Linked DNA regions of Homo sapiens: all the other regions are linked to region 1. Evidence: fine-mapped expression QTL. A gene starts in region 1. Each other region holds a variant in brackets. All regions are shown on one strand. Distances are between the middles of the regions. Region 1 holds the start of CLDN15 (claudin 15). Region 2 has its middle 20 kb from the start of FIS1. Region 3 overlaps COL26A1 (collagen type XXVI alpha 1 chain).

The links. PIP is the estimated chance that this variant, and not a neighbour inherited with it, causes the effect. A credible set is the group of variants that fine-mapping cannot tell apart.
Region 2: its variant is the best candidate, but not a certain one, in a credible set for the expression of CLDN15 in whole blood (INTERVAL, PIP 0.59).
Region 3: its variant is the best candidate, but not a certain one, in a credible set for the expression of CLDN15 in whole blood (INTERVAL, PIP 0.76).

What each region holds. Positions count from the first base shown.
Region 1 is chr7:101,232,379-101,243,151 of GRCh38, forward strand. CLDN15 (claudin 15) reads right to left here and starts at 5,424. Exons shown (of 5, transcript NM_014343.3): 1 at 4,987-5,424; 2 at 1,900-2,064; 3 at 455-536; 4 at 226-342; 5 at 1-137. The coding sequence starts at 5,203. The coding sequence ends at 32. FIS1 (fission, mitochondrial 1) reads right to left here. Exons shown (of 5, transcript NM_016068.3): 3 at 8,452-8,528; 4 at 7,764-7,869; 5 at 7,094-7,525. The coding sequence ends at 7,428. RefSeq lists enhancers at 1-93, 7,542-8,085.
Region 2 is chr7:101,259,970-101,270,742 of GRCh38, forward strand. It overlaps the pseudogene RNU6-1104P. Among named protein-coding and RNA genes, the nearest start is that of FIS1, 20 kb to the left of the region's middle. RefSeq lists a silencer at 6,016-6,193. The variant C/T (reference allele first, on the strand shown) is at 5,147.
Region 3 is chr7:101,410,075-101,420,847 of GRCh38, forward strand. COL26A1 (collagen type XXVI alpha 1 chain) reads left to right here. Exons shown (of 13, transcript NM_001278563.3): 2 at 9,903-10,025. Among named protein-coding and RNA genes, the nearest start is that of COL26A1, 53 kb to the left of the region's middle. RefSeq lists enhancers at 1,213-1,756, 10,326-10,773. The variant C/T (reference allele first, on the strand shown) is at 6,186.

The DNA of each region.
Region 1 (10,773 bases):
GGAAGACAGCGGGGCCCACGGGCCAGAGCTGCTACACGTAGGCGTTTCTGCCGTATTTGCCAAAGCTGCTGTCGCCTTCTTGGTCCGAGGTGGCGACGGGCATCACGGACACTGGAGCCTGGTAGGGCCGCCGGGCGCTGCGGGGAGGGCCCGGGGTCAGAGCGGGGGCGCGGCCCTCCTCTCTCCAATCCCGCCCGGCCCCAGCCTGCGCCTCACCCTGCTCACCTGGCGGCTGGGTCCTCGTCAGAGCCGCAGCAGCAGGCGGAGCAGAGGCAGAGGCCACCCAGGATGGAGATCAGTGAGGCGCTCCACCCCAGGTAGAGGGCGGGGCCCAGCTCGTACCTGCGCACAAGGGCGGCGCGGGGGCGGGGGACAAGTGAGACGCCAGCCGGGGGGCAGGGCTGAGTCCCACCCGCTGCCCCGAGGGCGGGGGGTGGGGGGTTTCCTCACTCACTTGGTTCCGGGGTACAAGGGGTCGAAGAAGTCCCGGGTGATGTTGAAGGCGTACCAGGAGATGGCCACCATCCCGCAGATACCTGGGGACCGGAGGACGACCCCAGTCCAGTCCAGGGGGAGGGATAGTGGGGGAGGGGGCTTAGGGGAGAGGCAGGCAGGGGCTGCCCAGAGTAGGACGGGGGCACCAAGTCCCAGAGCAGCAATTTCACTCAATTCCTTTCTCCCCACCCCAGTTTATAAGCCTTCCTCCTTCCTGGGGTCAACTTCTCAGGGTAGCCCTTAGGCCCCAAGTCCAGCCCACCCAGCTCATCTCACACTACCTCAACCTCCTCCTGCCTCTTCTCTCTTTGGTCCCAGATCTACCTAGTTCATGCCCACCTCTAGGGCCTTCATCCCATCATCTCCTCACCCAGATGGAGCCCCATCCAAATCCCGCCCACCCTTGAAACCTTGAAAACCCAGCTGGGCCATGGGAGTCCAGGGTCGTCCTTTCCTGAAGCCAGGCAGACCCCCGGGCTAGCACCACCCTACTCACTGGGGGCTTGTCCTCTTGCAAGCCACCTGACCTTTCTGGGCCTGTTTTACCTCTGGAAAACAAGCAATACCCACCCTACCTCAAAGGCTTATTGTGAGGCAATGGGTACAGAAATGTTCTGCAAATTGAAAAGCAATGGCCAGATGGCATTGTTTTTGTTTTTTGCTGAGACGGGTTCTCACTATGCTGCCCAGGCTAGTCTGGAACTCCTGGGCTCAAGGCAGTTCTCCTGCCTTGGCCATTTTTTTTTTGACAGTCTCACTCTTTCACCCAGGCTGGAATGCAGTGGCACAATCTTGGCTTACTACAACTTCTGCCTCCCAGGTTCAGGTGATTCTCCTGCCTCAGCCTCCAAGTCAGTGGGACTACAGGTGCCTGCCACCACGCCTGGCTAATTTTTTTTTTTTTTTTTTTTTTTTTTTTTTGGTATTTTTAGTAGAGACAGGGTTTCACCATGTTGGCCAGGCTGGTTTTGAACTCCTGACCTCAAGTAATCCACCCACCTCAGCCTACCAAAGTGCTGGGATTACAGGCATGAGCCACCATGCCCCGTGGTATGGCACTGTGGACGTGCACTGTGTGTGTGCGCCATAGCGTGCACCCTAACTCTGCTCCCCAGCTAGGATGTAAGCTCCCGGAGGCAGCCGCTCACTCTTATCTTCGAAGTCCCTCCCACACCTGGCCGTGGCCAGCCCCTACTGGGAGCTCAAGAAACACTGCCGATGGGCTGATTTGCAGCCAGGAGATCTGGGGAGTACAGATGAGGCAGGGGTGAGCAGGTGTCCATGCAGCAGGGTAGGGGAGGTGAGCATGAGGAGTGGGAATTGGAGAGGAGATTAGATGAGGACAAAGCAGCCTGAAGTCTGCGGTTGAGGGGGACCCCCGCCCCATCACCTTCCCCCAGTTACCGGCCAGAATGTGGAGGGCCCCTGCGGTGGCCGCCAGCTTGGCTTTCCTGGAGAGCTCCAGGCCCCCAATGTTGGTGCAGCGCAGGCCCGCTATGCCTAGCAAGAGGCCGAGGAAGCCCAGGAGGATGGCGGTGATCATGAGTGCCCGGCAGGCCTGAATATACCCTGGGGGTGGGCACAGTTGTCAGCCTTTCCCATCTCCCCTCTGCGACGGAGCCAGCCCAACAGCCCCTCACCATCCCAGGTTCAAGTGATTCTCCTGCCTCAGCCTCCCCAGTAGCTGGGATTACAGACACGCACCACCACGCCCGGCTAATTTTTCTGTTTTTAGTAGAGACAGGGTTTCACCATGTTGTCCAGGCTGGTCTCGAACTCCTGACCCCAAATGATCTGCTTGCCTCGGCCTCCTGAAGTGCTGGGATTACAGGCATGAGCCACTGTGCCAGGCCCCCCTCACCTTCTTGCTCTCTTGTACCTAACAGTCCCCACATCCTCTCCTTCCCCTGGGCTCCTCCAGCCTACCCAGTTGCAGTCACCCTTCCCTCCTTAGGCATCTGGGCCCCTCCCACCCTGCTCCCCACTCCTCCCATGCACCTGGCACGCTTTGCTTGTGCCTGGATTACAGGCTTTCTCCTGGGCACTCTTGACACCTGAGCTGGGCAACTCTATTCTGGGGGCCGTCCTGTGTACTGTGGGATGTTCAGAAGCCTCCCTGACCTCTACCCACGGGGTGCCAGTAGCAACCCCCTCCCCACAAGCTGTGACAATCATTGTGCAAAGTCGCCCGGCTGAGAACAACTGCCCTATCAGGTTGCTCTCACGTTGCTGGGTATACAGAAACCACAGCTAAGCATCGCTGTCGCCTTCCCCACGTCTGATTCCACTCCAAGTCCTTCACTGTCCTAGCCCAGTGCTGGACATTTTGACCTTGGTTTCTTCCTGGAGTAACAGGTAGGGGGCAGCGGTGCTGTACAGCAGAGGGCCTAGGGCAGTTTTAGAGACAGGGTCTTGCTTTGTCGCCCAGGCCAGAGGACAGTGGCGCCACTACAGCTCATCACTGTAGCCTTGATTGAACTCCTGGATGCAGGCGATCCTCCTGCCTCAGCCTCCTGAGTAGCTCAGGTTACAGGTGTGGACCACCACACCCGGTGGAGTTTCTGACCTAGGTGGAATCCTGGGCCCAGGACCGATCCAGGTCAGTCTAGCTCAGTCTTTCAGTGCCTCAGTTTCCCTTTTCTCAGAGCTGGAGGCTGCGGGCTCCCTCTTGCTTCCCCCTTCTCCTCCCTTCTCTGTCTTTGATAGTTGCCAAGCATTCCAAGGACCTTGCACCCCTTTCCCGGGTGGGGCATAACTGTTGGTGCTGAAGGGGAAAGGCTGGGTCCCTGCCAGGAGATGCAGGGTGCAGAGTCGGGGGGTAGGCAGGAGGGACAAAGTTCTCTGGGAGCACTTTCTTCCTCCCAGCCACTCCCTCTGGGGCTGACACGAGTCTGAGTCCCCAGGTGGCTCTAGCAGTCAATGGAGAGATTATGGAAGAGCCCAGGGGCACATGGGCTGCGTGGCCAGGGGCTGGGGTGCACGGTTGGGAGACGCAGTCAGGTCCCTCTCCCAGGACCACCCCAGCCGTGGAGTCTGAATGCCGGCTCCCCTCTCCTGCCTGTGTGATTCAGGGTGGGGTGCTGCACCTTGCTTCTGTAAAAGTTTCCCCCTACTTCCCCACTGTGGAAAAATGTAGGCAGAAGCACCTAGCCCAAGGCCCGGAACCTGGTCACCCTCTACCCCTGTGCCCTGGGGACTCTGGCACCATCTTTCATGCAGTTGCCAGGGGTGCCCCTCTCAGGTGTGCAGGCTCACAGCAGAGCCCCCTCCTCACAGCATGATGTGTCTGGGAAGTGGGTGTAGGGGCTGCCTCCAGTGTCCCTTCTGGACACTCAGAACTCTGGGGTTCTGGCCCAAGTTGTACTCAGCTTTTATAGGGTTTTTTTTGGGGGGGGGGCCCGCCGGCCCTGCATACAGTCAGTCCTAGAGAGATGGATGAAAACAGGAAGCCTCTGCCGCTGCCTCAGGAGGGGCTGGGAGTAGTGGGGGCACAGGAGACCCACCCAGGCCCCCTAACTGCTCAGAGCAGCTCCAACATCCCCGGGGGTGAGCTCTCAAGCCCCGCTTCACAGCCAGTGTCGCCCTCGGCTCCTTCCCTGCCACACGGTGCCTGGTGAGTGGACTGGCCCTGAAGGACCCAGGAGGGCGTGCAGCGGCACCACACACAGTTCACGGTCGCCAGCGCTCAGTCTCTGGCATAGGGCAGACGGAAGGGAGACTGCCCCGGAGAAACAATGGGGCGGCCTCATCTTAGCGGGGAGCAGGGAGCGGGAAGGTGCCGCAGCCACAGAAAGAACTGCCCTGGGCCCAAAGAGCTGTTGGCTCCAGCCCTCTAAGACCCCAGAAAGACACTGTCCTGGAAGCCCCACACACCTGCACACACACCGCCTCCTTACAGCGGACGCTCAACCTGCAACTTGCAAGACGCCTCCCTTCACAGGGGCCCTTTATAGACATCAGCCGGACAAGGAGACCAGTGCCCCCCGACAGTGAGGCTGGGGAGTCTGTGGAGCCTGGAAGTTGATCAACCTCTAAGAATCCAAGATGGGGCCTCCTCCCCCTGCCCACCCCAGCAATCCCACCCCCAAAACATGCTCAACCGTACTGAGTGCCTATGTGTGTTAACATCACGCTAACATTCTGCACTTTCTCAGTCACCTGTGAACTGGGACTCTCACCCTAACCCTACAGGTGGGAGATGAAGCTGGTTTCATCATTTGCCCACAGCACAGGGCTGGGAAAGGGGGTCTGATTCTGGTGCCTGCACCTGTAACAGCTAAAAGCGCCACACTAGCGCAGGGGGCCACGTGTGGCAAGGTCTTCACTCCAGTTCTAGGCATGGGCCGCCCCCAGCACTCCTGGCTGCGGGAACTCAGACCCGCAGAGCTTAATTCAGGGCTCCCTGCATCCTCACGGAAGTACCCGCCCTCCCCTGGGGTCTCTGCAGCTTCCCCGCCGCCCTCTCTCCCTGGAGCGCTCCCCACCCCATACCAGAGAGGGCCAGCATGGACGGGAACTCCCAGCAGTTGTAGACGCCCAGGGAGTCGGTGGCACAGCTAAACCAGAGGTTCTCGAAGATGGTGTTGGTGGTGATGACGTTCCCGTGCACAGTGGACACTCGCCAGTAGCTGTTTGGCAGAGTCACCCCCAGCATCAGCAGCCCCACAGTTGCCATGAAGAAGCCAAAGGTTTCCACAGCCATCGACATGGTGGGATGCAGGACCCTGGGGGGCTGGTGCCCCAGAGAGGGGGAGGGGCAGAACCCCTAGGGAACTGGAAGGGGCTGCGGCTAAGGAGGGTTGTCCAGGCAGGCTGGGGTGGAATCAGCCTCAGCCTCTGCCTGCCTCTTCCTCGGGCTCAGGTCCGTCTCCACTTTCTGCCTCCCTCCTGCTCTGTGGGTCTCTCTGCTTCCTGGCAGGTCAGAGGAATGAGCTAAGCCTGCGCGCGGCAGCTGTTGACGAGATGGAGGGAATAACCGAAACGGGCCAAAAGTCCACCCCCTCCCCCCAGCCTCTGGGCTGCCCCGGGCTCCCCGCCCCACGAGGGTGGGGGGGGCAGACTTACCCTGGAGCCACTGACGGATACAGCCAAGGAGGGGCCCCCAAGGGAGGCACTGGGAACTGAGGGGAAGCGTCTGTCTCTGACTCAGCTTTCATTGGGGGCCAAAGAACGGAGTAAGAGGGACAAGGAGTGAAAAGATGACAGAGACAGACGTGAGAGCAATAAGGGACAGAGACGGAGAGAGAATGAACAGCAGCCTTCAGTGGTGAAGGACGGAGGAACCACGAGAACAATCTAAGATACTCAGACCAAGGGGTTGGGGCGTATGAGTCTCTTAAGGAAGATCAAGCTGGAATGAGGGGATGGGAGGGTAGGAGACCCACAGCTCTGGGCTCCATCCAGCCTGGAATGGAACTCGGCCCCACCATCCATTCACCAGGGAACTCAGGCGGGGAGTTTTAGTCCCCTGAGCTTCTGCTCTGTCAGTGACATACCCGACTGCTTACTGCAGGGGCTGTGGTGAGAACTGGGACCAGGGGCCGGGCGCAGTGGCTCTCGCCTGTAATCCTACCACTTTGGGAGGCTGGGCTGAGACGATTGCTTGAACTCAGGAGTTCAAGACCAGCCTGGGCAACACACTGAGACCTCGTTGGGACCAGGGAGTCAAGCCCCCCACACATAACCAGCGCTTGGCACCGGGAACTGTCCTGGATGTGAGTGTCACAGGGCTGAGGCCACCAGGGAGTCGCTCTCACCCAAAACTCAAATTTCCTCCTAAGTTGATCTTTGACTCAGCATCGAGCCTGGTCCTGCTGGCCAACAGCCTGGAGCGTGATCCTGTGGCTAAGCTCTGCAACCTGTTCCCAGTTATCAGGGACTGTCACCCACTCTATTCGTTAATGATGATGGATTAGCAGCCTCTGGTCCCCATCCCGAGCCAGTGCAGAGCACCTGTCCCAGAGCAGACACTCTCATCTCCTGCTCCGGTTCCCTAGGGCTCTGTCCCTGGGGGCCATCAGCGCTGGCTGCGCACCTCCCTGGCCCCACGGCCCTGCTGGGCTTCTCCGGCCTCCCCTCAGGTGTCTCCTCCCTACTCCTGTGCTGGCCTGGGCTGTGGAACGAGAGGTATGCGGTGAAGCAAAACAGGCCCATGCCGAGCCTGGCACGAGGGGGCGAAGCTGGCTAGGTGGGGCTGAGTCCTGACCTTCCAGCCCACAGGCGAGAGCTGGGGCTCCCTGGGCTCTGACCTCTCCCGGGACCCCCGCCTACTCCATGCCAGATGCAGGATTCCTTCCCCTACTGGGCTCCCCCTCCCCCAGAGGAGGAGGTAGGAGGAAGGGGAGGCCACAGGAAGACAAAGGGAGGGGAGGGTGGGGAGGAGGAAGCCAAGGGGGCCTGCTGTGGAAAACTCCACAGAAGTAGCTGAGTGGGTCAGAGGAGAATGCAGGCCTGAAGCCCGGCCTGGCCCCGAAGTTCTGCCCGCCCATGCTCAGGTCACTGCCTTCTCCCAGGACTCTGGGACCATGGAAAAGCCCCATGTCTCCGAGCTGCCCGGCACTCTCAAGGACATGGCTTCAGGAAAGGGAGGAAGGAAGGGTGTGGGCTCTGGGCTGCGGGGTGGACAAAGAACCCCGTGCCAACCTGGAGGGCAGGGGCAGGAGAGGACCAGGAGTGACGTCTCCGCCCCCTGTGCCCAGCGTTCAGAACCCACCCCTCCCCTCAACGCAGACACGGGGGTTCCCAAGCCACAGCCCCGTTTTATTTACACTCATCCCAAAGCACATGATGGGGCTGAAGGACGAATCTCAGGGGAGCAGAAATTAGCTGAAGGCCACAGAGGATAGAGACGGGGGGCAGGGGGAGAACAGGGAAAGGACAGCGAGGATGGACAGGCCCTCCTGGAGCGTTCTCCGTGGGCTCCCGCGTCTCCTTCAGGATTTGGACTTGGACACAGCAAGTCCGATGAGTCCGGCCAGTCCCGCCACACCCAGGGCCATGCCTCCCACGATGGCCATGCCCACGAGTCCATCTGGGGAAGGAAAGGGACAGTGTCAGGAGCCCGGCCCCTGCGGAAACCCTGACCGTCCCCTTCCGCCAGCCCTGCCCCTCAACAGAGGCACACCCCTACCTGGAGTCGCAGGGCAAGGGGCTCTAAGAACTGGAAGGGGTGGGGCTGAGGGGCTGCCTGGAGGGGTTCATTTACAGAGAGACCAAAGTGCCCAGGCGTGGGGAAGAGCGGGGCTGAACAAAGGGGCCGAGGCTGTCACCTTTCTTCATGGCCTTGTCAATGAGCCGCTCCAGTTCCTTGGCCTGGTTGTTCTGGGGCTCTGTCTGCAGCAACCCGCGGACGTACTTTAAGGCCTTCTCGTATTCCTGCGCTCGGGGAAACGCGCACGCGTCATACACACCGCAGTGTTTTTTTGTTTGTTTGTTTTTTAATAAGAGACGGGGTCTTGCTCTGTTGCCCACGCTGGACGGCAGCGTCGCAATCACAGCCCACTGCAACCTCAAACTCCCAGGCTCAAGCAGTCCTCCCGCCTCAGCCTCCTGAGTAGCCGGGATTACAGGCGTGAGCCACTGGGCCGGCTACACCTCAGTATCCACCACTCCCCCTGCCCACGTGAAGGGCCTTCCCTTCTTCAGCCCTGGGGGCTCCTCCCTCGACCTCCACCCACTCCCTCCCTCCAGCCCCACCCCACGGAGTAGAGTCCACAAACAACCCCAACTCTGCGGGAGATAACAGCGCAAGGCTTGGGCCTGCACCCAGTCTCTTGACGTCACCTTCCTCCCCACCCCCTCGCCACTCTGATCTTCCCTCGGAGTCCTCATCTGACACCGCTCTGCACCTCTGCACCCCTTCAGCCTTCCCGCTGTCCAGGGCTCCACCCTGGAGGACACAGTAAGAAGGTCCTGCAGCCCCAGAGGAGGGTGAAGGGAACGGGGTCCCCACCTCACCTTGAGCCGGTAGTTCCCCACGGCCAGGTAGAAGACGTAATCCCGCTGTTCCTCCTTGCTCCCTTTGGGCAGCAGCTCTGGGGAGGGGCAGAGAAGAGGGTGAGAAATGCTTCTTTCCTAATACTTTCCTAATACTGTGTCCCAGAGGCCCCTTCCACTCTCTGAATGCCTCTGTGATCCTGGGAGGGTCACAGTCCTAAGCCTCCCTTTCAGCTCCAGTCACTCCCAGCACCCTAGCCAGAGCTCTGGGACAGGGTGAACCCCAGCTGTGCCAACACCCCAGTGACAGAACATGCCTTTTATCAGTATTACAGTCAACTGGTCCATCCAACTGAAATGAGGAAATCGGGGCCCTGGAGAAGCCAAAGGCAGCGTGACTCAGTTTTGGCATCTGCTGTGGTATTTTTTTTCAGACGGAGTTTCACTCGTCGCCCAGGCTGCGGTGCAATGGCGTGATCTCGGCTCACTGCAACCTTCGCCTCCTGGGTTCAAGCGATTCTCCTGCCTCGGTTTCCCGAGCAGCTGGAATTACAGGTGCCCGCCACCACGCCTGGCTAATTTTTGTATTTTCAGTAGAGATGGAGTTTCACCATGTTGGCCAGGCTGGTCTCAAACTCCTGACCTCAAGTGATCTGCCTGCCCTGGCCTCCCAAAGTGCTGCCGTTGTGGTTTTAACTAAACTGCCTGCTGTACAATTATTGTTTAAAAAAAAAAAAGTTAGGACTCCCTCCCCCTTTAAAAAAATCAGCTCAAAACTCACCTTCAATCAGCCTTCCCCGAAGACCCCACCTGACTTTGTCTTCCTTCCTTTTTTTTTTTTTTTTTTTTTTTTTTAAAGAGACAGGGTGGGCCGTGAGCCGTAGCTCATGACTATAATCCCAGCACTTTGGGAAGCTGAGCCGGGCGGATCACCTGAGGTCGGGAGTTTGAGACCAGCCTGACCAACATGGAGAAACCCCGTCTCTACTAAAAATACAAAATTAGCCGGGCGTGTTGGCACATGCCTGTAATCCCAGCTGTTCGGGAGGCTGGGGCAGCAGAATTGCTTGAATGCGGTAGGCAGAGGTTGCGGTGAGCCAAGATTGCACCATTGCACACTCAGTCTCGGGAAAAAAAAAACAAAAAACGGAGACAGGGTCTCGCTCTGTCACTCCAGTCTGGAGCACAGTAGCATGTCCATGGCTCACTGCAGCCTCAAACTCCTGGGGTCAGTGATCCTCCTGCCTCAGCCTCCCAAGTAGCTGGGACTATAAGCACACACCACCATGCCTGGCTAATTTAAACATCTTTGTTACACAGACAGGCCAGGTGGTCTCAAATTCCTGACTTCAAGCCATCCTCTGGCCTTGGCCTCCCAAAGTGCTGAGATTACAGGCATGAGCCACAGTGCCTGGCCCCACCTGACTTTCTTAATTCAGAGACTTCCCAGAGGATAACTGTACTGTATGCACTAGAATTTGTTGCTAAATAATTCTGCAGGTGTTTATAAATCTTCCTGTCTGTACTGTTTTCTCAACTAGACTGGCAACACTTAGAGAGGCTGTTTCTTCTACACCTACACCCTGCTGTAGAATAAACCTGAAAATCTGAATTGCCGAAGTAGACAAACATAGGGTAAAATTATTTGTATCTTTTAAGAAAGAGTCTTATTTTTATAGTTTTTTTTTTTTTTTTTTTGAGACGGAGTCTCACTGTGTTGCCCAGGCTGGAGTGCAATGGCGTGATCTTGGCTCACTGCAACCTCTGTCTCCCGAGTTCAAGTGATTCTCCTGCCTCAGCCTACTGCGTAGCTGGGATTAAAGGTGTGCGCCACCAGGCCCAGCTAATTTTTGTATTTTTAGTAGAGACAGGGTTTCACCATGTTGATTAGGCTGGTCTCGAACCCCTGACCTCGTGATCCGCCTGCCCTGGCCTCCCAAGGTGCTGGGATTACAGGTGTGAGCCACTGTGCCTGGCCATTTTTATAGATTTTCAATAGGCATCCTTTGCTAACACAGTCAGCATTCTGTATTCATAGATTCAACGAACCATGGATCAAAAATACTCAGAAAAAAAAAAAAGATAGTTGCATCTGTATTGAACATGAACAGACCTTTTTTTCTTGCCATTATTCCCTAAACAATACAGTATACTATTTACACAGCATTTACATTGTATTTGGTATTATAAGTAATCTACAGATGATTTAAAGTATATGGGAGAAGGTGCACAGGTTACATGTAAATACCATGCGATTTTATATACGGGACTTGGGTGGCTATTGGTATCTGTGGGGGTGGGGTTCCTAGAACCAATCCCCCATGGCTACAGAGGGATGGCTGT
Region 2 (10,773 bases), 28 kb after region 1:
GTTCCTGCCACCACCCCCAACTAATTTTTGTATTTGTAGTAGAGACGGGGTTTCACTATGTTGGCCAGGCAGGTCTTGAACTCCTGACCACGGTGATCCATCTGCCTCTGCCTCCCAAAGTACTGGGATTACAGGCGTGAGCCACCACATTTGGCCAATTCTGCGTTGTTAAGGATTGCTTCAGATGGGTAATGGTGGGGCAACCAGGCTTAAGTTCAAAATTTAATGGAATAATCTTCATTTGTAGGGTAAATTGAGGATACCCATGTGATGAAAGATGCTTGTTTGTTTTATATTAAAATCTTAGAATTTTATAGAAGGAAATGATTGAAGACTTTTTTATTATTATTTAAAAATTTTAGGCTGGTCACGGTGGCTCATGTCTGTAATCCCAGCACTTTGGGAGGCCTAGTCGGGAGGATCACTTGAGTTGCTTGAACTCAGTAGTTCAAGACCAGCCTGGGTAACATGGCGAAACCCACATCTCTATAAAAATTTAAAAAATTAGCCAGGCATGGTGGCATGTGCCTGTAGTCCCAGCTACTTGGGAGGCTAAGGTGGGAGGATTGCTTGAGCCTGGCAAGTGGAGGTTGCAGTGAGCTGAGATTGTGTCACTGCACTCCAGCCTAGGTGACAGAGTGAGACCCTTTCGCAGAAAAATAAATAAACAAATAAATTTTAAAAATAGAGATGGAATCTCACTCTGTTCCCTAGGCTGGTCTCAAGCAATCCTTGTGCCTCAGCCTCACAAAGTGCTGGGATCACAGGCATGAGCCACCACACCTGGCCAATTCCACAATTCCACATTGTTTTGTTTTTGAGGTCGCCCAGGCCGGAGTGCAGTGGTGTGAGCATGGCTCACTGCAGCCTCCACCTCCTGGGCTCAAGTTATCCTCCCACCTCAGCCTCCCAAGTAGGTGGAACTACAGGCATGTGCCACCATGCCCAGCTAATTTCCTTGATTTTTTTTTGTAGAGAGGAGGTCTCACTATGTTGCCCAGGCTGGTGTCAAACTCCTGGCCTCAAGCGATCTGCCCACCTTGGCCTCCCAAAGTGCTGGGATTACAGGCATAAGCCACCACATTCGGCCAACTTTGCATTGTTTTGTTGTTTCATTTTGGTTTGTTTTTGAGGCAGAGTCTTATTCTGTCTACCAGGCTGGAGTGCAGTGGTGTGATCTTGGCTCACTGCAACCTCTGCCTCCTGGGTTCAAGTGATTCTCCCACCTCAGCCTCCCAAGTAGCTGGGATTACAGGCATGTGCCAACACGCCCAGCTGATTTTTGTATTTTTAGTAGAGACAGGGTCTCACTATGTTGCCCAGGGTGGTCTCAAACTCCTGACCTCAAGAGATCCTCCCACTTTGGCCTCCCAAAGTGCTGGGATTACAGGTGTGAGCCACCACACCTGGCCAGTAATTGAAGATCTTCAATTCAGTTGCTCACTTTTTTTTTTGAGACGGAGTCTCACTCTGTTGCCCAGGCTGGAGTGCAATGATGCAATCTTGGCTCACCACAACCTCCGTCTCCTGGGTTCAAGCAATTCTCCTGCCTCAGCCTCCCGAGTAACTAGGATTATAGGCATGCGCCACCACGCCCAGCAAATTTTGTGTTTTTTGTCGAGATGGGGTTTCTCCATGTTGGTCAGGCTGGTCTCGAACCTGACCTCAGGTGATCCTCCTGCCTCAGCCTCCCATAGTGCTGGGATTACAGGCGTGAGCCATGGTGCCCGGACGAGTTGCCCATTTTTTAATTGGCAAACATGATCAAAGAGGTTGGGTAATTTTCTCAAGGTGTGGTAGTGGGAATTGAAGCCTTTCTAGGTCTCTTGACTCTATAAATTGTCTGCAGTAATTTTTCTATTCGCTATTATCTTTTTGATATGTGGTAGGTCAACTTATTTTTTAAAAAGTAATTTTGAGGTAAAATCATCTGTTTCTGGTCAAAAGTCAGGTAGCTAAGTCCTTCATGAAGAGGAATGCCTGCATGAGCTAGATTACTCAAAGCGTTATAGTATAAAAGACACCCCCTCCCATCTCTTGGAAGCCTTCAAATGCTCGAAAGAATGTTCCAGAAGGCCGGCTGTGACTAGGAGCTGAATAGAGGCTGCTTCCTCTGAAAAATAAGATCACGTCAAGCTGGGCAAATCTGAGAGCTATGAACCTTCCTAAATGTCAAAATTGCTAAGGTATTTTTAAAACTCGGAGGCTTTTATTGACTTAACGACTGAGAAGATGAAAGCAGTGGAAAACGTGAAGAAATCACGCTTTTGTTAGGTGTTGAATTGCCGGAGATGTATCTGTGTCATGAACTGAATTGCATCTCCCAAATTTATATGTTGAAGTCCTAACCTCCAGGACCTTAGAATGTGACTATATTTGGAGATGGGGTCTTTAAAGAAGTTAAGTTAGAATGAGGTCATTGGGGTGGGCCCCCACCCAATCTGACTGGTGTCCTTATAAGAAGGGGAGATGGGGCCGGGTGCAGTGGCTGATGCTTGTAATCCCAGCACTTTGGGAGGCCGAGGCAGGCAGATCACTTGAGGTCAGGAGTTCCAGACCAGCCTGGACAACATGGTGAAACCCCGTCTCTACTAAAAATACAAAAATTAGCTGGGCATGATGGCACGCACCTGTAGTCCCAGCTACCTGGGAGGCTGAGGCAGAAGAATTGCTTGAGCCCGGTAGGTGGAGGTTGCAGTGAGCCGAGATTGCGCCACTGCACTCCAGCCTGGGCGACAGAGGGAGACTCTGTCTCAAAGAAAAAAAAAAAAGAAGAAGAAGGGGAGATGGGGCCGCGCATGGTGGCTCACGCCTGTAATCCCAGTACTTTGGGAGGCTGAGGTGGGGGGAATCACTTGAGGTCAGGAATTGGGATCAGCCTGGGCAACATAGCAAGACCCTGTCTCTCCAAAAAAAAAAAAAAAAGGTTGTGGGGTGATAGATTAGGACACAGACATACACAGAGGAAAGAGGACATGAACACAGGGAGAAGGTGGACATCTGCAGGCTAAGGAGAGAGGCCTCAGAGAGAATCAACCCTGGCGTCACCTTGGCCTCAGCCTCCCAGCCTCCAGAACTGTGAGGAAATAGATTTCTGTTGTTTAAACCATCCAATCTGTGGAACTTTGTTCAGAAAGCCCTAGCAAATTTACTGCAACATGCAAAAGCGGGCTAGCTCAGCAGGGCACAGTGGCTCACGCCTGTAATCCCAGCACTTTGGCCGAGGCGGGTGGATCACCTGAGGTTGGGAGTTTGAGACCAGCCTGACCAACATGGAGAAACCCCATCTCTACTAAAAATACAAAATTAGCCGGGCATGGTGGCACATGCCTGTAATTCCAGCTACTTGGGAGGCTGAGGCAGGAGAATCGCTTGAGCCCGGCAGGCGGAGGTTGCGATGAGCCGAGATCACACCATTGCACTCCAGCCTGGGAAACAAGAGCAAAATTCAGTCTCAAAAAAAAAAAAAGTCAGCTAGCTCATGTCTTTTTATTATTTTTGAGACAGGATCTTGTTATGTTGACCAGTTTGAAGTGTGGTGGTACAATCATAGCTCACTGTAGCCTTGACCTCCTGGGCACGAGGGATCCTCCCGTCTCAGCCTCCAGAGTAGCTGGGACCACAGGCATGCACCACCATGCCTGGATAATTTTTATATTTTTTGTAGAGATGGGGTCTCTTTATGTTTCCCAGGCTGGTCTCGAACTCCTGGCCTCAAACAATCCTCCTGCCTCTACTTCCCGAAGTCCTGGGATTACAGGCATAAGCCACCACGCCTGGCTTCATGGTACTGAAACACTCTACAGAGTACTGGTAAGTACACAATACAATTTTCCTTTAGATTCAGTTTTTCTATCCCAGAACTTGCTGAATGTGATTCCCAGGCAAGCCTTGTGCATTCCTGGACTGTTTCCGCCATGCATTCTGAGTGTGGGATGCAGAAACAGATTTTCAGATATGAGTGCTTTATTAACTCCCAAAAGGCACAAAGAAAAAGATCTTTGGTCCAGGCACAGTGGCTCACACCTGTAATCCCAGCACTTTGGGGGACCAAAGCGGGCGGATCACTTGAGGTCAGAAGTTGGATACCAACCTGGCCAACAAGGAAAAACCCCGTCTCTACTAAAAATACAAACATTAGCCGGGCAATGTGGCAGGCCCCTGTAATCCCAGTTACTTGAGAGGCTGAGGCAGGAGAATCACTTGAACCCAGGAGGCGGAGGTTGCAGTGAGCAGAGATCACACCACTGCACTCCAGCCTGGGTGACAGAGCAAGACTCGGTCTCAAAAAAAAAAAAAGAAAAAAGAAAGAAAGGAGGAAGGAAGGAAGGAAGAGAGGAAGGAAGGGAGGGAGGGAGGGAGGGAGGGAAAAGAAAGAAAAGAAAGGAAAAGAAAAGAAAAGAGAAGAAAAGAAAAGAAAAAGGTATTTGCACATTTCTGATCACAGAGGCCCTGAAGATGGATCTGCTGGCCTTTTACTATTCTTAGAAACCTGCTTGGTGTTTGGGAGGAGGGTTGGAGAAGGAGGCAAGAGCTGACCTTCCTCGCCCTGCAGAAGCATGCGGGGGTGGCTGTTCTGTGTTCAGTGAGGCATCACGTGTTTTCCTCCCCTTCTCTGGCCAGGCACTGGTTGTCCCATGTGCCCTTAGCTCTCAGAGCATCCAGCTCTGCCAACCTTGCAGGAAGATCTGGGGGTAGAGGGATTGGGGGAGAATCTTTATTGGGGCCACACACTCTGCAGCCTCATAGGACTGGTGGGGCAGGAGCCAGGGTCCAGTTGACCCTGATGAAAAGTTTAATGAAGATATGTAGCCCAGCTCTGGTCGGGCACAGTGGCTCTCACACCTGCAATCCTAGTGCTTTGGGAGGCTGAGGCGGGTGGATTGCTCGAGCCCAGGAATATGAGACCAGCCTGGGCAACATGACGAGACACCCCTCTTTATTTTATTTTAATTTTATTTTATTATTTATTATTTCTTTATTTCTTTATTTTTTGAGACTGAATTTCACTCTTGTCGCCCAGGCTAGAGTGCAATGGCGCGATCTCGGCTCACTGCAACCTCCGCCTCCCAGGTTCAAGCAATTCTCCGGCCTCAGCCTTCCGAGTATCCGAGTAGCTGGGATTATAGGCACGTGGCACCATGCC[C/T]GGCTAATTTTTATATTTTTAGTAGAAATGGCGTTTCATCATGTTGGCCAGGCTGGTCTGGAACTCCTGACCTCAGGTGATCTACCCGCCTTGGCCTCCCATAATGCTGGGATTACAGGGGTAAGCCACCATGCCCGGCCGATGCCCCTCTTTATAAAAATACATAAAATTAGCCCGATGTGGTGGTGCATGCTCGTAGTCCCAGCTACTGAGGAGGCTGAGGTGGGAGCATTTCTTGAACCTGGGAAGTTGAGGTTGCAGTGGACTGTGATCATGCTGCTGCACTCCAGCCTGGGGGACAGAGCAAGACCCTGTCTCAAAAAAACAAATAAATAAATAAAGCAATTATTATAATATGATGGTCAAAGTGTTCTTATTCAGTTAGCCTCTCACCAGAGCTTAGCGGAAGGGTCTTCAACTCCAGACTGCAAGTTAAGGAAAAGTTTTGAAGAGGTAATGGCAGAAATGAGTTTTTTTCTGTTTTTGTTTTTTTGTTTGTTTTTGAGACGGGATCTCGCTGTGTTCCCCCAGGCTGGAGTACGGTGTTGCAATCATAGCTCACTGCAGCCTGGAACTCCTGGGCTCATGTGATCCTCCCATCTCAGCCTCCCAAGTAGCTGGGACTACAGGTGCACCACCACACCCAGCTAATTTTTTAATTTTTTTGTAGAGACAGTGTCTTGCTATGTTGCCCAGGCTGGTCTCAACCTCCTGGGCTCAAGCGATCCTTTCTCCTCGGCCTCCCACAATGTTGAGATTAGAGTTGTGAGCCACCATGCCCACCTAGGGTGATATTCTGGTTTTTTTTTGTTTTGTTTTTGAGATGGAGTTTCACTGTTGTCATCCAGGCTGGAGTGCAGTGATACAGTGGCGCAATCTTGGCTCACTGCAACCTCCGCCTCCTGGGTTCAAACGATTCTCGGGATTACAGGCATGAGCCACCGCGCCTGGCGTCCATATCTCGGAAAATTTTCGATCTGTGGTTGGCTGAATCCATGCATGGGGAACCTGCAGCTATAAGGGTCAACTGTATTGGCCTCGTCAGTCAGGAAGTGGTCCTTCTTCTGTTTTCTGGAGATTACGTGTAATTAGTGTCGATATTTCTTTAACTATGAGTAGACTTCTCCAGTGAAACTATCTGGGTCTGGAGATATCTTTTTCAAGAGTGGGAGGAAAGAGTTAATACAACAGGTCTGTTTCCCCCCTTTCTCACTTATCTCTGTAGCCAAGGTGATGGCTGTTTGTCAAACTCTGAAAACCAAACTTCTGGAATATTCACATAGTTACTGGTTCAGATGTTATTCTCCATGGCCAAAACAGTGAGCCCAGATGAACCAGGCTGTCAGCAGATTTAAAGTAAACATAAAGATTCATGATACTTGGCCAGGTGCAGTGGCTCATGCCCGTAATCCCAGAATTTTGGGAGGCCAAGGCGGGCGGGATTGCTTGAGGTTAGGAGTTCAAAACCAGGCTGGCCAGCATGGGAAAAACCTGTCTCTACTGAAAATACAAAAAATTAGCTGAACATGGTGGTGAACGCCTGTAATCTCAGCTACTTGGGAGGCTGGGGCAGGAGGATCACTTGAACCTGGGAGACAGAGGTTGCAGTGAGCCAAGATCACACCACTGCACTCCAGCCTTGGTGACAGAGCGAGACTCCGTCTCAAAAAAAAAAAAAAAAAAAAAAAAAAAGAAGAAGCAGCAGCTACAGTAAGCTATGATCATGCCACTGCACTCCAGCCTGGGTGACATAGTGAGACCCCATTTCTAAAAAAAAAGAAAAAAAGATTCATGATGCCCAACCTGTGGTTAAGGGCTGTGTTTGGTCACATGGCAGGAATGTTGCCCAGGCTGGAATGCAATGTCGCGATCTCAGCTCACTGCAACCTCCGCCCCCTGGGTACAAGCTATCCTTCCGCCTCAGTCTCCTGAATAGCTGAGAATGCAGGCGTGTGCCACCACACCTGGCTAATTTTTTTATATTTTTAGTAGAAACGGGGTTTCACCATGTTGGCCAGGCTGCTCTCAACCTCCTGACCTCAGGTGATCTGCCCTCCTCAGCCTCCCAAAGTACTAGGATTACAGGCACGAGCCATCACGCCCATCCCACAAATGTTTTAATTTTTTTTTTTTTCCAGATGGAGTCTCACTCTTGTCACCTAGGCCGGAGCACAGTGGCGTGGCCTTGGCTCACTGCAACCTCTGCCTCGCGGGTTCATGCGATTCTTCTGTCTCAGCCTCGCGAGTAGCTGGGATTACAGGAGCCCACCACTATGCCTGGCTAATTTTTTTTTTTTTTGAGACGGAGTCTCGCTCTGTCGCCCAGGCTGGAGTGCAGTGGCGCGATCACAGCTCACTGCAAGCTCTGCTTCCCGGGTTCACGCCATTCTCCTGCCTCAGCCTCCCGAGTAGCTGGGACTATAGGCGCCTGCCACCATGCCCGGCTAATTTTTTTTGTATTTTTAGTAGAGACGGGGTTTCACCGTGTTAGCCAGGATGGTCTCGATCTCCTGACCTCGTGATCCGCCTGCCTCGGCCTCCCAAAGTGCTGGGATTACAGGTGTGAGCCACCGCGCCCGGCCCCTGCTAATATTTTTGTATTTTTAGTAGAGACAGGTTTTCACCATATTGGCCAGGCTGGTCTGGAACTCCCGACCTCAGGTGATCCGCCTGCCTTGGCCTCCCAAAGTGCTGGGATTACAGGCGTGAGCTACCACGCCCAGCCTAATTTTTTTTTTCTTTTTAATAAAGACGAGGTCTCACCATGTTGCCCAGGCTGGTCTCAAACTCCCGGACTCAAGCAATCCTCCCACCTCGGCCTCCCAAAGTGCTGGGATTACAGGGGTGAGCCACTGCGACTGGCCTGACCACACAAATTTTGACACCAGAACTCAAGTGGAATTTCCTGGGCAAGGACATCTCACACAAGTCCTTGCAGTTTGCTCCTGGAAAAGATATGTCTGTGCATTCCTGCAGAGAGAGGATAAAAAAGTGTGCATTTGACCTCTCCAGCCTTCATCTATTAATACCCTTTTTCCTGCTGTTCTTGTATTGTATCCTCCGCTGTAATATATCTTCACCTAGAGCATAACTTTATCTGCAGTCACGTGGGTCCTTCCAGGGAATCACCAAACTAGCTGTATGTGACCACGAAGACAAGAAATTGTTTTATTAAAACTATGAATTCAAGGCCAGGTGCAGTGGCTCAGGCCTATAATCCTAACACTTTGGGAGGCTGAGGTGGGTGGGTCACCTGAGGTCAGGAGTTTGAGACCAGCCTGGTCAACATGGTGAAACCCTGTCTCTACTAAAAATACAAAAAATTAGGATTACAGGTGGTGGGCTCCTGTAATCCCAGCTACTCAGGAGGGTGAGGTGGGAGAATCGCTTGAACCTGGATGGCAGAGGTTGCAGTGAGCCGAGATCGTGCCACTGCACTCCAGCCTGGGTGATGGAGTGAGTCACCATCTCAAAAAAAAAGGGGAATTCAGCTGGGCATGGTGGCTCACACCTGTAATCTTAACACTTTGGGAGGCAAGGCAAGTGGATTGCTTGACCCCAGGAGTTGGAGGCCAGCCTGGGCAACTTGGCAAAACCCCATGTCCACAAAAAATAAAAAAATTAGCTGAGTGTGGTGGTGGGCGGCTGTAGTCCCAGCTACTCAGGAGGCTGAGGTGGGAGGATCACCTGAGCCCAGGAATTCAAGGCTGCAGGGAGCCGTGTTTATGCCACTGCACTCCAGTGTCGGTGACAAAGTGAGACGCAGTCTCGAAATGAAATAAAATAAAATAAAAAACCATGAATTCCATTTTTAAAATTGTTACAAGACTTTAAAAATTATGTTTCATATTGAGTGTTTTTTGGTAGTTTGTAGTTTTCAAGAAATTGGTCCATTTCTTCCAGCTTGTTGGATTTATATGGGTAGAGTTGCTTGGTATCCTTACTATCCTTTTATCAGTTTTTCTGGGTTTTTTTTTTTTTTTTTTGAGATGGAGTCTCGCTCTGTCACCCAGGCTGGAATACAATGGTGCAATTTTAGCTCACTGCAACCTCCACCTTCCTGAAGCGATTCTAGTGCCTTGGCCTCCCGAGTACCTGGGTTTACAGGCGCCCGCCACCACACCTGGCTAATTTTAGTATTTTTAGTAGAGACAGCGTTTCACCATATTGCCCAGGCTGGTCTTGAACTCCTGACCTCAGATGATCCACCCACCTCGGCCTCCCAAAGTGCTGCGATTACAGGCATGAGCCATCGCACCTGGCCTTGTTTTTTTGTTTTGTTTTGAGGTTTTGAGATGTAGTTTCACTCTTGTTGCCCAGGCTAGAGTGCCATGGCACGGATCTCGGCTTACTGCAATCTCCGCCTCCCAGGTTCAAGCGATTCTCCTACCTCAGCCTCCCAAGTAGCTGGGAGTACAGGCATGCACCACCTCGCCTGGCCCTCTTTTTTAAAGACAGAGTCTCACTCTGTTGCCCAGGCTGGTGTGGAGTGATATGATCTCAGCTCATTGCAGCGTCTGCCTCCCGGACTCAAGTGATCCTCCTACCTCCAGCCTCCCGAGTAGCTGGGACTAAAGGCGTGTACCGCCATGCCTGGCTAAGTTTTGTATTTTTATTTTTATTTATTGTTTTATGGGGGCTACAGCGGCAGGTGGCAAGGCGCCACGCCTGAGTGGGGATGGCGAGATTGTTCTCCAATCGCCAACCTCAATGGTGCAACGGGAGACGGACATGGGAAGGCTATGACGTCACGGGCCCTGTGACGTTATGGCAGGATACGGGGAAGGGAAGCAAAGCGAGGTAACGGGCAGCGGACTATAGCAAGAATATGGAATGCATCGCGAATCTGTGTGTCATCCTTGCGCTGGGGCCATGCTAATCTCTGTATCGTTCCAATTTTAGTATATGTGCTGCCAAAGCAAGCACAATTTTTGTATTTTTTGTAGAGACAGGGTCTTGCCATGTCACCGAGGCTGGTGGCAAACTCCTGAATTGAAGTGATTCGACCGCCTCGGCCTCCCAGAGTGCTGGGATTACAGGCATGATTCACAGCACCTACCCTCAAATGGATATTTTAAAACAAAAATACAACAACAAAAATTTAAAACTCACTGGATGGACTCAGTAACAATATGAAGGTGAGGAAGAGTCAGTAGACAAAGGTGGATTGATAGAAAACACTCAAACTAGCTGGTCACGGTGGCTCACGCCTGCAATCCCTGCACTTTGGGAGGCTGAGGTGGATGGATCATTTGAGGTCAAGAGTTCGAGACCAGCCTGGCCAACATGGCGAAACCCCGTCTCTAGTAAAAATGCAAAATTAGCTGGGCGTGGTGGTGCACACCTGTAATCCCAGCTACTCGGGGGGCTGAGGCAGGAGAATTGCTTCAACCTGGGAGGTGGAGGTTGTGGTAAGCCAAGGTCGTACCATTGCACTCCAGCCTGGGCAACGAGAGCAAAAAAAAAGAACAACAACAACAAAAAGAACCAAAACTGGGACTGGGCACGGTGGCTCACGTCTGTAATCCCAGGACTTTAGAAGGCAGAGGTGGGTGGATCACCTGAGGTCAGGAGGTTGAGACCAGCCTGGCCAACATGGTGAAACCCCATCTCCACTAAAAATACAA
Region 3 (10,773 bases), 180 kb after region 1:
TAAGGTTGGTTTGGTGGGCAGGGGGCTAGGGAATGGGTGCTACTGATTGGTTGGGCATGAACTCTTAAGGGTGTTAAAACTATCTTTGTGCACCAAGTCCATTTCTGGGTGGTGGAGGGTCATGGATTGCTGGGCCAGCTGGTGTTCGTTGGTTCATCAGTTCATCTGAATGCAAACTCTAAAAAGTATTGCAAAGACCAGTCTTAGGTTTCACAATAACATGACTCCTGAATGCTAAGTTATTACAGAAGAGCAAACTAGGGAAAAATAGTGGGTTCTTGTTTTACCGTACCTGCATCTTAGCAACTTTTGGTTGTCACAAAAGAAGTTACATGACTAAGGATCATTGTTCTTAAGAAAAGAAGTTTATTAATCTTGTTGGACAGCCTGCCTGGGACTAGGAGAGGAAGGTAGTGAATTATTAGTGACTACTGTCTGTTGAAATGACTGTACATGTAATCATGCATAAAGGATGAAAAGGTCAGAGAGAAAGGAAAAAATATATAACAAACATCTTATGATTGAGTTCTCCCGGGTTCAAGAGATTCTCCTGCCTCAGCCTCCTGAGTAGCTGGGACTACAGGTGTGCACCACCACGCCCGGCTAATTTTGGTGTGTGTGTGTGTGTGTGTGTGTGTTTTGAGACGGAGTCTTGCTCTGTAGCCCAGGCTGGAGTGGAATGTCACGATCTCAGTTCATTACAACCTCTGCCTCCTAGGTTCAAGTGATTCTTCTACCTCACCCTTCCAGAGTGCTAGGATTTCAGGCATGAGGCACCACACCCAGCTAATTTTTTTTTCTAATTTTTTTTTGTAGAGCTGGGGTCTTGCTACGTTGCCCAGGCTGGGCAAACCTTAGTTCTAACAGAGCTTCTTGAACACAGTTGGCAGGCAACCTCACTGGCACTGGCCTTTCTGAGGGATTGGGCAGGTGTGGCCAGGTAATTAGAACAGTGAGGGCAGGTGTGGTGCTGGGGAGCTGGGCCTGAAGCTGGACACCCCCAACCTTGAGATGGCTCAGATCCTGCTGGGGCTCAGGTCCTGGCACAGACCACAGCCCAGAGCAGCTGCTGTGGTTGAGCTGAGTGACTGTGGATGGGAGGGCTCCTTCTGGGATGCAGGGGTTGGGGTCGGAGCAACAGAACTTTACCAGGCCTGCCCTGTGTCCGCCGTCTTCAGGAGCTGGGAGTCTTCCCATAGGACGAAGGCTAAGACAGAGGCATACAAGGGGGCCCTGTGGGACAGGAGAACCTTTCCTGGCTGGAGGGTCAGGGAAGGCTCGCGGGAGGGACACGGCCACGTCTGTGCTTGAGAGCGCGCCCTCTGGTGGTAGATAGAGGAGACTGCAGGCTGGGAGGGCAGGAGGGGCCGAGGTTCAGGACCACCATGGGAGGGGCGTCAGGACACGGACTTGCAGGCACGGTGCCTAATTGGCCGTAAGGAGGCAGGGAAGGGAGGGAGGAAAGGAGAAGGTGGAGTCTGGGTGATTTGCTCCTGGTAAGGAAACGGGGAACTTAGAGGTGCTGGCCTCCAAGCTGGAGGAGCAAGTCGGGGTTGAATAGTGATGGATTCAGTTGGATTGGACAGGTTGGCATTGTGTGTACTGCAGTGTCCTGTGGGACATGACGGTGTGTGACCACTGTCTAGGCAAGCAGGCAGGCACAGTGGTGACTCAACAGGGGGCCAGGACAGAGCTCAGGATGAGGAAGTGGGGACAGACTGTGTGGTTCTGGTGGAAAGGAGGGGGGCCCTGGCAAGGCCTTGGGGCCTTGCAGAATTGCTTGAGCCCAGGAGGTCAAGGCTGCAGTGAGCTATGATTGTGCCACTGCACTCCAACCTGGACAACAGAACAAGACTCCATTCCAAAACAAAACAAAAGAAAAAACAAAAGCCCTGGTCTCTGACTCAGGCTCGGGACTCAAGTGTCCTGGGGAGGGAGGGGACGCATGAGATCAACCCTCAAAGCAAAGCTCAGTTAGGAGCACTGGGGCTTGGAAGGCCAAGCCTGAGGCTGGGGTAGAGGTGGTGAGGTAGGAGGTGGAACTTGACTCCAGGGGCAGAGCTTGGACACCAGACCAAATTGAGGACTAGCTAAACAAAACAGATCGGGGCAGAAGCGCCTCCCCATAAGACATGCCCACCAGTGCGCCATGTCAGTTTCCCATTGCCATGACAACACCAGGAGTTACCACCCCTTTCCATGACAACGACCCAACAACCCTAAAGCTACCACCCTCATCCTGGAAGTTTACGCATAAACCACCCCCAATTTGCATACAATTAAAAGTGGGGCCGGCACAGTGGCTCATGCCTGTAATCCCAGCACTTTGGGAGGCCCAGGCGGGCAGATCATTTGAGGTCAGGAGTTTGACACCAGCCTGATTAATATGGTGAAACCCCCTCTCTACTAAAAGTATAAAAATTAGCCAGGCGTGGTGGTGTGCACCTGTAATCCCAGCTACTAGGGAGGCTGAGACAGGAGAACCCCTTGAACCTGGGAGGCGGAGGTTGTAATGAGCCAAGATTGCATCGCTGCCCTTCAGCCTGGGCCACAGAGCGAGACTCCGTCTCAAAAAAAAAAAAAAAAAAAAAAAGTGGGTATAGATATGAGTGCAGCCCTGCCTCTGAGCTGCTACTCTGGGCACACTGCCTCTGGGGTAGCCCTGCTCTGCAGGGAGCAGGACCTCTGCTGCTGCTGTGCACTGCCACTTCAATAAAAGTTGCAACACCACTGGCTTGTCCTTGAATTCTTTCCTGGGGGAAACTAAGAACCCTCCCTGGCTAAGCCTCAATTTTGGGGCTCCCCTGTCCCGTGTCACCAGGGCAATGGGGGGAAGAGGCTGCTTCAGCAGCATCTCTTAGGGCAGCAGGCAGCCTCGGAGAGGGGTTGACTGGTCACATTCCGAGATGGGCATGAACCTGGGAAGTGTCCTGAAGATCTCTCTATCGCATCATGACATGATTTCCTGAAATCACTTAGCACTTGTTTTCTCTATTAACCGCCAATTAAGGATTTGATGGCTCAGCCAAGTCACAGAGCCAAACGCCTGGTGGGGTGAAAGTACTGTGCAAGCAAGCCTTGAGCTGGTGGTGGCTCGGGACGGTTTGATTGCTCCTCCCCCTAGGTGAAGTGGGCCGCCTCTTGCAAGAAAAAGAGACTTGTGGCCGGGCGCGGTGGCTCGTGCCTATAATCCCAGCACTTTGGGAGGCTAAGGCAGGTAGATCACTTGAGGTCAGGAGTTCCAGACCAGTCTGGCCAACATGGCGAAACCAGTCTCTACTAAAAATACAAAATATTAGCCGGGTATGGTGGCGGGTGACTGTAATCCCAGCTACTTGGGAGGCTGATATAGGAAAATTGTTTGAACCCAGGAGGCGGAGGCTGTAATGAGCTGAGATCATGCCATCGCACTCCAGCCTGGGCCACAAGAGTAAAACTCCATCTCAAGAAAAGAAAGGAAATGAAAGGAAAGGAAAGAAAAAGAAAAGAAGAAAGAAAAGAAAAAGAAAAGGAGACTTGTTTGGGAGCAGATCCGTCCTCAAGACCTTTGCTAGGAGTGAGTTTACTGTCTTGGACCCTCCCTGAGTGCTCAGCTGGGGAGAAGGGAAGGGAAATGAGGAAGGAACATTGCTGAGATGATGCCCAGAGATAATGCCAGTCCCTTGCCATCCTGATGGAGGCTGCCGGGAGTGTGTTCATTTCTTGGCAGTTCGAGGACCAGGCCTGCCATGTCCCAGTTCTGTCCTCCTGGGTCAGTCCTTCCAGGAGGGTCGTGAAAGGGACATGTGTCTCCTGCTAAGCACCTTTCTGGGTGCAGTTATTTTATGGCCCCCAGAGCACTGTTCACCCACTGCTGTGCACCCGCCATAGTCAGGAGCTGAGGTGCGCAGGTGGGCGGTGGCAGGACGACACCACCAGACAGCAGACAGAGGCAGACAAAACACTCAGGACGCAGGGATCCTAGGGGCAAGGCAATGGGGGTCCCCACAACCGCGGCTACCTGGGGATGCACAGGCTTTAGAGCTCCATCTGGAAAGGCCTGGAGCCCTTTCCTTGTCTCTGCCTCCCTTCTTCGTTGTTTTTGGCCAAGTTTTGATTTTTGGAAGCCATTTCCAGCCCATTTAAAGACCAAATGTTATGGGGACGGTGATTTGAGGTATTTGGAAATGTTTTCCAATTCACAGCTCATTTCTCTATGGAAAGCCCTGACTCAGTGTGGTTCAGAGATGCTGGACGACGGCCTGTCTGTTCTAGAACCCTCGGGCGGATCTCAGGATCCCACATTAAACCATCCTGAGGAAAGTCACCTCTCTCTCTCTCTCTCTCTCTCTCGCTCGCTCTCGCTCTCACTCTGTGTTTGTGTGTGTGTGTGTGTGTGTGTGTGTCGGAGTCTTGCTCTGTCACGCTGGCTGGAGTGTAGTGGCACGAACTCGGCTCACTGCAACCTCTACCTCCCGGGCTCAAGCAATTCTCCCGCCTCAGCCTCCCGAGCAGCTGGGATCACAGGCACCTGCCACCACACCCGGCTAATTTTTTATTTTTATTAGAGACGAGGTTTTGCCATGTTGGCCAGGCTGATCTCAAACTCCTGACCTCATGTGATCCGCCCATCTCGGCCTCCCAAAGTGCTGGGATTACAGGCATGAGCCACTGCGCCCGGCTCACCTTTCTTTTTGGAAACACACACTGAGTGCTTGAGCTGGAGCTGAGGCTTTCCAGTAGAATCAAAGGAAGGGCCTAGGCTGCTGAAGTCTCCCACAGTTTCAGGACCTTTTTAATTGGCAGAGGTGGAATTCACAGTTTGTACTGGGTAGGTGGGATCCCGCCAGTCCTCGGGTCAGGAAGACTAGACTCCCTTTGCAGCTCAGCCTGTGGTTTGAGCTGTAGCTATGGGCAATGAAGTTTAACCTCTTAGACTTTCTTTTCCATCTGCAAACTAGGACTGTCTTTAAGCTGTTAGATTCCTTTGTAGGGTTTAAGTAACCAGTTGATTAAGAATGATGCCTTGATTTTGGTAATGCTGCATGATTTACACACTACTGACTGGGATGTGTTCATTTAGTCCTGATCATAACCCCCCCCCTTTTTTTTTTTGAGACGGAGTCTCTCTCTCTGTCGCCCAGGCTGGAGTGCCGTGGTGCGATCTTGGCTCACTGCAACCTCCGCCTCTCAGGTTCAAGCGACTCTTCTGCCACAGCCTCCCCAGTAGCTGGGATTACAGGCGCCCTCCACCATGCCCGGCTAATTTTTTGTATTTTTAGTAGAGACTGGGTTTCACCATGTTGGCCAGACTGGTCTCGAACTCCTGACTTCAGATGATCTACCCGCCTTGGTTTCTCAAAGTGCTGTGTTTACAGGCGTGAGCCACTGTGCCCAGCCTCATCATAACCTTAAAAGTTAGATTTTAAATATAACTGAGGCTCAGAGAAGGGACATCACTCTGCCTAAGTCATACAGCAGGTTTGTGGCAGAACCTGGTTTTAAACTAGGTTTCCTGGTGCCTGTGAGAAGAGGGCTCAACTTTTCACTACTTTCCCTTTTCTTCCATGTTTTTGTTTTGTTTTGTTTTGTTTTGAGACAGGGTCTGGCTCTGTCATCCAGACTGGAGTGCAGTGGTGCGATCATAGCTCTCTCCAGCCTTGATCCCTGATCTCAAGCGATCCTCCTGCCTCAGCCTCCCGAGTAGCTGGGACCACAGGCATGTGCCACCATGCCTGGCTAATTTTTACTTTTTATTGTATAGAGATGGGGTCTTGCCGTGTTGCCCAGGTTAGTCTGGAACTTCTGGGCTCAAGTGATCCTCCCACCTCAGCCTTCCAAAGTGCTGGGATTATAGGCGTGAGCCACTGCACCCAACCCCTTTCACGTATTTTTGAGTGTGCTAGTACTGGTAATATGTATTTTCCTAGAAAATTGTCCAGTAGTCAGGATTTTTGAAATTTTTTGATGTAAGATTATACCTAATATTTGCTTATACATTTAAATCTCTATATGGAATTTTTTTTTCTTGTTCTTCATGTCTATTAAACCTGAGTTTAGCAGGGCATGGTGGCACACGCCTGGAATCCCAGCCCTTTGGGAAGCCGAGGTGGGACGATCACCTGAGCCCAGGAGTTTGAGACCAGCCTGGGCAACATAGCTAGACCCTGTTTCTACAAAAATGCAAAAGTTAGCCAGCATGTTGG[C/T]GCACACCTGTGGTCCCAGCTATCTGGGAGGCTGAGATGGGAGGATTGCATGAGCCCAGGAGGTTGAGGCTGTGGTGAGCCATGATCATGCCACTACACTCCTGACCTCAAGTGATCCACCCACCTCGGCCTCCCAAAGTACTGGGATTACAGGCATGAGCTACCACACCCAGCCTGAACTCATGTCTTTCTTCAGCTCTTGTAAATTTTCTTGTTATTTCTTCAAGTACATGCTTCTCTTTGTTCTTTTTTGATCATGCCTTCCAGAGCTACTACTATATAGATGTTGGTCCTTGGTCTTCCTCTAGGTCCCTTGTTGCCTGTTTCTGCCTGTTTTCCATCTCCTTTTCTTTTTGCAGTGGCTACTGGGAAAGGTCACAGCTTAGATTTGCAGCTCATCGGTTTGCCCTTTAGCTGTTTCCATTCTGTTTTTCATAGTCATACATTTCACTTCTAAGATAATGCATTTTTTTAATTTCATTTTTTTTGTGTGTGTATGTCACAGGGTCTTGCTCTGTCACCCAGTGTGGAGTGCAGCGGTGCGATCATGGCTCACTGCAGTCTCAAACTCCTGTGCTCCAGCGATCCTCCTGCCTCAGCCTCCTGAGTAGCTGGGACCACAGGCATGTCAGGGACCATGCCTGGCTAATTTTTGTATATTTTTGTAGATACAGTGTTTCACCATGTTGCCCAGGCTGGTCTAAACTCCTGGGGTCAAGCTATCCACCCGCCTCAGCCTCCCAAAGTGCTGGGATTACGGGTGTGAGCCACCATGCCTGGCCAGAATTTTTTAGTGAGTGATACATTGTCTTATTTCTTTGAGGACATTAATTATGCTTTAAAAAATTATCTCCATCTATTTGCTTTACTATTTTTTAAGGGGATGTGATTTATTGCCTGTTGAGTTGGTGCCTTTCTTCCATGATACTGGCCTTTTTTCCTCAAATAATTTGAAAGTCTTGGTATCTGGGGTTTTCCATTAGCTTGTTTCTGTTTCCTGAGAATTTGTCTGTTGGTGGGCTGGAGGTATGGATGAAGAATGGGAAACGAGTGTGTAAGAATTCATTTATCTGTCTGACTTTGAGAGTGACCCTGTTTCTCCTGGAGGTCACAAGCTTTTTTTTTTTTTTCTTTTTTCCATCCCCCAAGACTGAAAGGTCACCAGTTTTTGAGGTCAGCCAGCACCCACTCCTGTGACCATACCTACCTTAGGACAGGTGAATCCAATGCCTAATATCTTTTTTTTTTTTTTTTAAATAGAGACAGGGTCTCGCTCTGTCACCCAGGCCAAAGTGCAGTGGCACTATCATATCTATGTATCTCTACATATCTATAGATACAGGTATATCTATATATCTAGACATAGATATAGAGATATATCTCTATATCTAGACATAGATATAGAGATATATCTCTATATCTAGACATAGATATAGAGATATATCTATAGATATCTATATCTATAATATATTTATATCTTGAGATGGAGTCTTACTCTGTCATCCAGGCTAGAGTGCAGTGGTGCGATCTCGGCTCACTGCAACTTCTGCCTCCTGGGTTCAAGTGATTCTCCCGTCTCAGCCTCCCAAGTAGCTGGGTCTACAGGTGTGTGCCACCAAGCCTGGCTATTTGTTTTTGCATTTTTAGTAGAGACAGGGTTTCTCCATGTTGGCCAGGCTGGTCTCGAACTCCTGACCTCAGGTGATCCGCCCACTTTGACCTCCCAAAGTGCTGGGATTACAGGCATGAGTCACCATGCCCAGTCGTATATATATACTTTTTGTAGAGACAAACAGGATCTTGCTATGTTGCCCAGGCTAGTCTAGAATTCCTAAGCTCAAGCGATTCTCCCACCTTGGCCTCCCAAAATGCTGGGATTATGAGTGTGAGCCACCGCACTCAGCCTCCAATGCCTGATTCCTGAAACCAGCAGGGACAAGGACCCGGGTCCTACCTGTCCAGCTCTTTCTATGGTGGTCCCCTAACCAATCTCTCTGATGGTCACCTTTGGGTCCCTCTCTACCTCCTCATCTGCATCTGTGCCCCCATGTGGCTCCTAGCTTCAGCCCCGGTCCTCTTTTGTGTGTTTCTGGCTGTGATTTTTGCCTTCAATGTGGGCCCATCTACTTTCTGTCTCTTAGGGACCCCTCCAAATGTCTGGCCCATTGCTTCTCTCTTTCCAATGCCCTTGAGGACTTTTTTTCTTATTTTATTTTATTATTATTTTTAGACAGGGTCTCGCTCTGTCACCCAGGCTAGAGTGCAGTGGCATGATCACAGCTTACTGTAGCCTCAACCTCCTGGGCTCAAGTGATACTCCTGCCTCAGCCTCTTGAGTGGCTAGGACTATAGGCGTGTGCCACCACAGGTAATTTTTAAATATTTTTGTAGAGATGGGGTCTCGCTATGTTGCCCAGGCTGGTCTCAAACTCCTGGGCTCAAGTGATCCATCCTCCTCGGACCCCAAAAGTGCTGAGCCACCACCCGGCCAGGGACTTATTTTTTAATTTTCAATTTCTAGGCTATGGGGATGGGAGGAGGAGGTGGGAGCACCTTAACCTGATCCCGTATTGTTTGTGTACGTCCCTTCCTCTTTCCTCCTCTCCACTGCCCAAGCTTGCTGCCCCTTGCTTCTTGTACTCTGAAGGCATTTATTCCCTAGCCCGGCAGGTCACATGTCTCTTCCTTTCTCCTGGCTCCTCCCCTTCCTTCAGCCTTCTGGCTCTTTCTTTCTTTCTCTCTCTCTCTCTCTCTGGCTCTTTCCCTTCCTCCCTCCCTCCCTCTCTCCTTCTCTCTCTCTTTCTCTCTCATTCCTCCTCCCCTCCCCTCCCCTCCCCTCCCCTCCCCTCCCCTCTTCTCCCTTCCTCTCCTCCTCTCTTCAGGGTTTCACTCTGTTGCCCAGGCTGTAGTGAAGTAGCATGATCATAGCCACTATGATCCTGGGCTCAAGCCATCCCCTGCCCCAGCCTCCTGAGTAGCTGGGACTACATGTGTGTGCCACCACGCCTGGGCTAATTTTTTAATTTTTATTTTGTAGAGGCAGGGTCTCACTATGTGGCTCAGGCTGATCTTGAACTCCTGGGCTCAAGAGATCCTCCTGCCTCAGCCTCCTAAAGTGCTAGGATTACAAGTGTGAGCCACTGTGCCTGGCCTGGCCACTTCCCATTGCAGGCAAGTCTCTAGACTTGCCGTGGTCTCTCTCCGCTCTGTGCCTGTTACACCGCTGCTTCCCCTGCTGGCTTCGTCCCCTCTCACGGCCCCCACACATTGGTCAGTTGGTCGGTTGGTCGGTTGGCTAACTTATCTTGCACTACTCAGCTGGTGGCCTCAGGGCCTGCTGGGCGAGATGCCCTGCTCCGTTCCTGTAGCTTGTGTGTTCACCACGTGGTGGAACGTGTTACCTGCTGTTCCTATGGACTGTGTCATCTCCTCTCCCCACCAGGGTGAGATTTCCACGGGCAGGGCTGAGTCTTTCTCACCAATTCCACACTGAGTGGTCAGTGACGGGAATGATGCCAGGGCTTGGTGGCCAAGGGTTGCAAGTGTTCTCTCTTCCCCTCAGACCGAGACAGAGGGTCTCAGTGGGCCCCCCATCCAAGAGAGCGAGCCTCCACCCCAGGTTTGCGGGGGCCCCTCCCTGTCCAGCACGGCCCCCTGACCCGAAGTTGGCAGCTCTGGGAACAGGCAGGGCTCATGTGACTGTTGCTCTCTCCACAGGCACTGGTGCCATCACACAGTGACACGGACGGTGTCCTGCCAGGTGCAGAATGGCTCGGAGACGGTGGTCCAGCGCGTGTACCAGAGCTGCCGGTGGCCGGGGCCCTGCGCCAACCTCGTAAGGTAAAGGCCGCTGGGCTAGGCTGCTCTGCCCTTCCCTCCCATTCCCTCGGACAAAACCAGTCCCAGGATGGCTCTGGGAGAGGCTGGGCTGTGCTCACAGACAAAGGCTGAGCATGCATTTATGGAGCACCTTCTGTATATAAGGCATGGGTGTGTGTATATAGGGTATATATGTGTGTGTGCAAAGATGTCAGAGACATGCTCCTACCGCAACAGAACCACACAACCCAGTGGGTGTTTGACAGACAGAAGACCACCACAGATGAGTGGGGTATGGGATCCGAGGTCGGGGAAGGCCAGGTGGGGTTGAAGAGGGAACCAACCAGCCTTATGGCTCCAGGCTGGAACGAGGGGCTACAATGACCTTGGAAATCCAGCCTGTCTTTGGCCCCATCCATCACAGGCCTCGCCCCTGGCAGCACTGCCCCACTCACCAGGCATGTCCCTCTCACTGGCCCTACTTGTTACTGGACCTGCCCCTCACGAGGCCTGCCTTTCACCAGCCCTGACCCTCATGAGCCCCACCCTTCACCAGCCCTGCCCCCACCAGCCTTGCCCCTCACCAGCTCTGCCCCTACCAGCCACGCCCCTCACCAGCCACACCCCTCACCAGCCCCTCCCTCTCACCAGCCCCGCCCATAGTCAGCCCTTCCCTCTCACCAGCCCCTCCCTCTCACCAGCCCCTCCCTCTCACCAGCCCTGACCAGACCACAGGCTTCAGGGACTCTTCAGCATCCGCAGAGAGATC